2 linked regions of the Homo sapiens genome follow. The protein of the gene in region 1 interacts with the protein of each later gene in a biochemical or structural test. Each region holds a gene or a part of one and is shown on either strand. Other genes may lie near its edges.

Evidence for each region.
Region 2: the proteins of RAPSN (region 1) and KHDRBS1 form a complex in vitro, tested with the Homo sapiens proteins (one study listed by BioGRID).

Annotation. Positions count from the first base shown.
Region 1 is NC_000011.10:47,447,159-47,450,908, forward strand, and holds the start of RAPSN (43 kDa receptor-associated protein of the synapse), read right to left. Parts: upstream 1,979-3,750; 5' UTR 1,807-1,978; coding exon 1,615-1,806; intron 993-1,614; coding exon 654-992; intron 280-653; exon of another isoform or gene 169-279; intron 1-168. UniProt on the Homo sapiens protein: Postsynaptic protein required for clustering of nicotinic acetylcholine receptors (nAChRs) at the neuromuscular junction. It may link the receptor to the underlying postsynaptic cytoskeleton, possibly by direct association with actin or spectrin.
Region 2 is NC_000001.11:32,016,721-32,020,470, reverse strand, and holds part of KHDRBS1 (KH domain-containing, RNA-binding, signal transduction-associated protein 1), read right to left. Parts: intron 1-3,750. UniProt on the Homo sapiens protein: Recruited and tyrosine phosphorylated by several receptor systems, for example the T-cell, leptin and insulin receptors. Once phosphorylated, functions as an adapter protein in signal transduction cascades by binding to SH2 and SH3 domain-containing proteins.

The DNA.
Region 1 (3,750 bases):
ACCCTCTCTTCTTCAAGCCATCAAACATCACCTCTGCGAGGCCCTCCGACCACTATATTTGAAATTATGACACCCCCACGCCCAGTGCTGCCAGCCCTTTGCCCCGCTTCGCTTTCTCCTAACCACTTGACTTCCTGACTGTGTTGATCGTCTTTCTTCTCCAACTAGAATGCAACCCTCGTGAGGACGGGGACTTGGCTGTTTTTCTCACTGCTACACCCTGGGTCAACAGTCTTGGGATACAGTAGCTGGTCAATAAATATTTGATGACTGACTCCATACAACCCCACTGTAAGGTGAGTCCTATTCTCCTTCATTTTACAGATCTCTCCCAAGGTTCAGAGAGGATAGGTGACTTGCCCAAGACCACACAGCAAACATGGCAGTGCAGGCCGCTGGCCTGTCCTCACAGAGGAGCCTCCCATTATTCCTCCAGGAAGTCACACAGATCAAGGTTTGAATCCTGGCTCTGCCCTTGCTGGCTTCCTGGCCAAGTTGTTACCTTCCTGGATAAGCCTTTTTGCTCTCTGATTCTCACTCTCCTCAGCCCTCCCTAAAAGGAGGGCTGAATGAGGTAGTGCCACAGGGTGTGTGCCTCATGAGAGGGGAGCCCCAAAACCCTCCACTGCTGTCCCCCTGGGGTGCAGGCCCACCTTGACCTGGGCATAGAAGCTGCCCAGGCTGCAGCACACGCGGCACTCGAGCATGGCGTCATCATTGTTGTGGGCATAGCGCAGGGCCTTCTCGAAGCTCTCCAGGGCCTTCTGGAAGACGCTGAGGCCCAGGAAGGCATTGCCCATGCTCAGGCTGACCTGGCCTCCGAGCTGGGCACCTGCCCTGGTACCAGGCAGCCCAAGGCAGGTCTTGCAGTAGGAGATGGTCTTGTGAAACTCGCACAGCTTCTCGTTGCTGCGTGCCAGGTTCAGGTAGCTCTCCAGGAGGAAGTCGGCATCCTCCAGCTCCCGGGCCGTGTCGATCTGGACCACAGCGAACTGCACACAGCGACGGTGGGCAGGTGGTGCTCAGCCTGGACTCTGAGCCTTGGACCCCAGCCTGCACTGCAGGCTCAGACCTGGAGGCCCCACACCCACCCCCCAGCCTCACACCCAAAGCAGCAGATCCCAAAGCTTCTTTTCAGACCCAGAGCTTCTACCCGCCAGCCTCAGCTACCTTCCCTACACCCCAGCCTCACCTCCCAAGCTCAGGCTTGCAGCCTTCACCTTCTATCCCAAGCCTCAGATCTGGAGTCTCCACCACCCACCCACCCCCAGCCGCAACCCTGGAGCCCACACCCCGCCAGGCTCAGACACAGAACACCAGACAGGAAGGCTGAAACCTACAATGGGCTTGAGACCCACAAACCCTCGACCCTGAGGCTGGAGAACCTCAGTCTCAGAGACTCGGGCACCACAGTTCAAGGCCACAGGCCTGAATCTGATGCCAAGACTCAGTATCTAAGACCCAGGGCCTTAGATATAAATTCAGAGCCTCGGGCCCTGGCTGCCAGCCTGTGGGACACAGGGGAGCCCGAGGAGGCCGAGAGGGGACTGGGGAGCCTGGGAGACATCCGGCCCCAGCCTGACCCTCGAACGCCCCCAGGCCGGGTACACCCACCTTCAGCATCTCCTTGTAGCGGCCCATCTCCGAGTGGGCTGTGACCAGGCAGCCCAGCACGCGGAAGCGCCCCATGAGGTCCGAGCTCTTCTCCAGCACCTTTGTCCACACCTGCAATGCCTTCTCTGTCTGGTTGGACTGGTACAGCTGGAGCCCCTTCTCGATCTGCTGCTTGGTCTGGTCCTGCCCCATCCTCCCCAAGCCCTGTGTCCCACGTGGGGTGATCCCTGGTGGCTCCGTGCCTCTAGGCACTCATGGGGCAGGAATCACAGTGCCAGCTGCCCCCCGAAACGTGGGAACAAAAGCAGCGTCGGGTGGGAGCCGGAATGGGGCCTGGATGGAGAGCAGGCGCCACCCTGGGAACAAAGCTGGTTCAGCCCGTCTGCAGCTGTCGCTGCCAGTTGGGGCCACATGGCCTCTGAGGAATGTCAGCAGCAAGGTCACGTGGGCCTCTGCTGCACCCACCCGCGAGCTGGGACGTGGCTTCCCTGAGCATACAGGCACCTTGCCACCTGGGCACCCCCTTGGGCGTCCCTTAGGCACCTCTGACACTGACCCTGACCGCCCTGGCAGCACGGGCCCTCCCAGCAGCCTTGCCAAGGGGCCAGCTCCAGCAAGTGGGCAGGCCTTGGGCTAGAGGTGCTCGGGGGAAGGAGAGCGAGGCTGGACCTGCAGGTCCGGGGAAGCCAGGTGAGCGCCCAGCCCTGCTTCTTCCCCATCAAGACACCCCTGACCGCAGCATCCCCTGGCTCTGTTCCTGAAATTCACTGAGCACCGTGGGTCACTCATCCAGGCCCAGGCTGACACCATTCACCAACTCTCACCTTAGAGAGTCTGGGAAAGACCTCCAGCTGGTGAGAGGCCTGAGCTCTAGCCTGGCTTCCTTCGAACTCTCAGTGGGACCCTAGCCAAGTGACCTGGCACCGTGGACTGAAGAGAGGAATGGTACCTGGCTCACTGGACTGCTATGAGAACTCAATGACGAAAGAGTTGAGAAGGACTTAGGACAGTGCCCGGCACAGGAAACCCCGCATGTGCTGCAAGAGGCTATTTTGCTCCATGGCAAATCCCCACCCGGGCCAGAACCCAGCCCTTGAAGTTTCAATGTCTCACTTCCAATCCCAACCCCGGGCTGAAAGGGTCCTCATAATGAGATTTAACACCAGATACTGTGGAGAAGGGCAAGGTCTTATGTAGTATTGGGGCCCCCGCTAGCAGGCCAGCTCATCCAGCCCCCCTTTCTCCTCTCTCTGCATGCCAGCCTTCTTCCTGCCCCAGGGCAAAAGTTTATCCTTTCTGGCTGGGCAATTCAGTGGTTTTTAGTATATTCACAGAGATGCACATTAATTGCCACTAATTCCAGAACATTTTAACCACCCCAAAAAGGAGACGCACACCCATCAGCAGTTACACCACTCCATTCCCCACCTTGATATGACTGAATCATGTCCCCCCGCAACCAAACGCATATGTTTAAGTCCTAACACTCAGTATCTCATAAGGTGACTGTCTTTGGAGACAGGGTCTTTAAAGGGTGATTAAGGTAAAATGAAGTCACATTGTACCTCATCCAGTTAAGACTGGTATCCCCCCCCCCTTTTTTTTGAGACAGGGTCTCACTCTGTCACCTAGGCTGGAGTGCAGTGGTGCAGTCACAGCTCACTGCAACCTCTACCTCCTAGGCTCAAGTGACCCTCCCACCTCAGTCTCCTGGGTAGCTGAGACCACAGCTGTCTAGTTTTTGTAGAGATGGGTTTCACCATGTTGCCCAGGCTGGTCTTGAACTCCTGGAGGTGGAGGTTTCAGTGAGCCGTGATTGTGCCACTGCACTCCAGCCTGAGCACCAGAGCAAGACCTTGTCTCAAAAAATAAATAAACAATAAATTTTTATTTTTAAAAATTATTTTTGAGACGGAGTTTTGCTCTTGTTGCATAGGCTGGAGTGCAGTGGCACAATCTCAGCTCACTGAGACTTCTACCTCCCGGGTTCAAGCAATTCTCCTGCCTCAGCCTCCCAAGTAGCTGGGATGACAGGTGTATGCCACCACGCCTGGCTAAGTTTTTGTATTTAGTAGAGACGGGGTTTCACCATGTTGGTCAGGCTGGTCTTGAACTTCTGACCTCAGTTGATCCACC
Region 2 (3,750 bases), on another chromosome or scaffold:
CCCAAGAATGCAACTGTTGAACGATACGGTAAGCACGTTTTTTTTTTGAGACAGGATCTCACTGTTGCCCAAGCTGGAGTGCAGTGGCACGATCTCAGCTCAAGGCAGCCTCGACCTCCTGGGTTCAAGCGATTCTTCCACCTCAGCCTAAGACCAATCTCCTGGGTTCAAGTGATCCTTCTGCTTCAGGCTCCCGGGTAGTTGGGACTATGGGTGTGTGCCGCCATTCTCAGCTAATTTTTAAATTTTCTGTAGAGACAAGCTCTCACTAGGGCTCAAGCAATCCTCTCACCTTGGCCTCCCAAAGTCCTGGGATTACAGGCATGAGCCACCATGCCCAGCCAATAAGCACATTTAGTTTTGTAAAAAACAAAAAACAAACAAACAAACAAAACCTGCATTGGGCTGGGCATGGTGGCTCACACCTGTAACACAGGCACTTTGGGAGGCTGAAGAGGGAGGATCATGGTCAGGAATTTGAGACCAGCCTGGCCAACACGGTGAAACCCCATCTCTACTAAAAATACAAAAATCAGCCGGGCATGGTGGTGGGCGCCTGTAATCCCACCTACTCGGGAGGCTGAGGCAGGAGAACTGCTTGAAACCGAAAGGTAGAGGTAGCAGTCAGCCAAGATCGCGCCACTGCACTCCAGCGTGAGCGACAGAGCGAGACTCAATCTCAAAACAAACAAACAAACAAAAAAACAAAACCTGCAATATCACAGATAAATGTATACTTAATGATATTCTGCTTTATCTTACTAGGCTTTGTTTTATAGAAATAGTATTATACTGTATGTAGTCTTATGGGATGTACTTTCTTCATATAACATTAGATTTTGGAGATTTCTCCATGTTGTTGCCTGCAGCTATAGTTCATCCATTTTCACTGCTGTACAAATATTTTCTTTTTCTTTCTTTCTTTCTTTTTGTTTTTTTTTGAGATTGAGTTTCACTTGTTGGCTAGATCTCAGCTCACTGCAACCTCTGTCTCCCGGGTTTCAGCAATTCTCCTGCCTCAGCCTTCCAAGTAGCCGGCATTACAGGCACCTGCCACCACGCCCAACTAATTTTTGTATTTTTAGTAAAGACAGGGTTTCACCATGTTGGTCAGGCTGGTCTTAAACTCCTGACCTCAGTTAATCCACCCGCCTCTGCCTCCCAAAATGCTGGGATTACAGGCGTGAGAAACTGTGCCCAGCCAAATATTTTCTGTTGTAAATCTATCACATTATCCAATGAATGGTGAAACAAGTTGCAATGTTTTGTGAACAAGGTACACCATTTCATGAATCAAGTGCTCATGTATAAGTTTCTTTGAGCATATTCCTAGAAAAGGTGTTGCTGGTTTTTTGTTTGTTTGTTTGTTTTTTAAGACAGAGTCTCGCTCTGTCGCCCAGGCTGGAGTGCAGTGGCGGCGCAATCTCGGCTCACTGCAAACTCCACCTCCTGGGTTCAAGTGATTCTCCTGCCTCAGCCTCCTGAGTAGCTGGAATTACAGGCTCCCGAGTAGCTAGGATTACAGGCACGTGCCACCACACCCAGCTATCTTTTGTATTTTTAGTAGAGACAGGGTTTCACCATGTTGGTCAGACTGGTCTCGAACTTCTGACCTCAAGTGATCCGACTGCCTTGGCATCCCAAAGTGCTGGGATTACAGGCATGGGCCACCGCACCTGGCCTTACTCTCCAGTTTGTTTGTTTGTTTGTTTTTGAGACGGAGTCTCACTCTGTCCCCCAGGCTGGAGTGCAGTGGCGCGATCTCGGCTCACTGCAAACTCCGCCTCCCGGGTTCACGCCATTCTCCTGCCTCAGCCTCCCCAGTAGCTGGGACTACAGGCGCCCGCCACTGCGCCCGGCTAATTTTTTTGTATCTTTTAGTAGAGACGGGGTTTCACTGTGTTAGCCAGGATGGTCTTGATCTCCTGACCTCGTGATCCACCCGCCTCGGCCTCCCAACGTGCTGGGATTACAGGCGTGAGCCACCGCACCCGGCCTGTTTGCTTTTTTGAGACGGAGTCTCACACTGTCGCCCAGGCTGGAGTGCAGTGGTGCGATCTTGGCTCACTGCAACCTCCGTCTCCTGAGTTCAAATGATCTTCCTGCCTTAGCCTCCTGAGTAGCTGGGATTACAGGCGCCCACCACCACACCAGGGGTAATTTTTTGTATTTTTAGTAGAGACAGGGTTTCACCACGTTGGCCAGGCTGGTCTCGAACTCCTGACCTCGTGCTTTGCCTGCCTCGGCCTCCCAAAGTGCTGGGATTACAGGCATGAGCCACCAGGCCCGGCCCTTATTTTCCAGTTTTAAAAGCAGGTTTTGCTAGCCCTGTAGAATGAACTGGGAAGGTCTTAATGTATTTCTAGAGAATACTGTAAATAAAGGAATTAACTATTTTGAAGTTTCAACAGACTTTGTAAATGTTTTCCACTGTATGCTTTTGAAGGATGGATTTTTGAGTATCTCTCCAAGATCTTTTGCAGATTGCTAATCTATTCAAAATGTTTATTCTTGAGTCACTTATACTAACTTGTATTTCCCTAATTGTAGAAAGTAGAAAAATAGGCCGGGCGCAGTGGCTCATGCCTGTAATTCCAGCACTTTGGGAGGCCGAGGCAGGCGGATCACCTGAGGTCGGGAGTTTGAGACCAGCCTGACCAACATGGAGAAACCCCGTCTCTACTAAAAATACGAAATTAGCCGGGCGTGGTGGCACATGCCTATAATCCCAGCTACCAGGGAAGCTGAGGCAGGAGAATTGCTTGAACCTGGGAGGTGGAGGTTGCGGTGAGCCAAGATCGCGCCATTGCACTCCAGCCTGGGCAACAAAAGTGCAACTCCGTCTCAAAAAAAAAAAAAAAAAAAAAAAAGTAGAAAAAGAACACTGGTATCTATACAACAGCATTTTACTTACTATATAAATATATTAACACAATAAGGTAAATTATTTCTCTTCCAGAAAACAAAGATAGATGATTGAATCCTTATGTCTGCAGACACATTCGAATATATACAACAGCATTTTACTTAGTATATAAATATATTAACACAATAAGGTAAATTATTTCTCTTCCAGAAAACAAAGATGGATGATTGAATCCTTATGTCTGCAGATACATTCGACAGTCATCACAGCTGAATATCAATCTGGCTAACATAGAAGTCTACATTCAAAATCTACATCCCTCAAAATTTTGTCTTTTTTTTTTTTTTGAGACGGAGTCTTGCTTCTTCACCCAGGCTGGAGTGCAATGGTGCAATCTGGGCTCACTGTAACCTCCAACTCCCGGTTTCAAGTGATTCTCCTGCCTCAGCCTCCCAAGTAGCTGGGATTACAGGCATGTGCCACCACGCCCGGCTAATTTTTGTATTTTTGGTAGAGACGGGGTTTCACCATGTTGGCCAGGCTGGTCTTGAACTCCTGACCTCAAGTGATCCGTCTGCCTCAGCCTCCCAAAGTGTTGGGATTATAGGTGTGAGCCACCGTGCACGGCTGTCATCATTTTTTCATCAGTCCCATCTTCAATGAAGGTGAATATGTATTATTTCGTGAAATATTTAATAAGAGGCCACTCTGTGCAGCACTCTTCAAGGCATAGAAGATACAACGGTGAACAAAGTAGACAAAAGATTCCTGCGCTCTGGTGGAGCTGACATTCTAGCCATGGAGAATGGGTAATCAACAAACAAATACTGTACATAACGACAATATAGTGCAACAGATGCTGATAGTGAAAAATAAAGTAAACC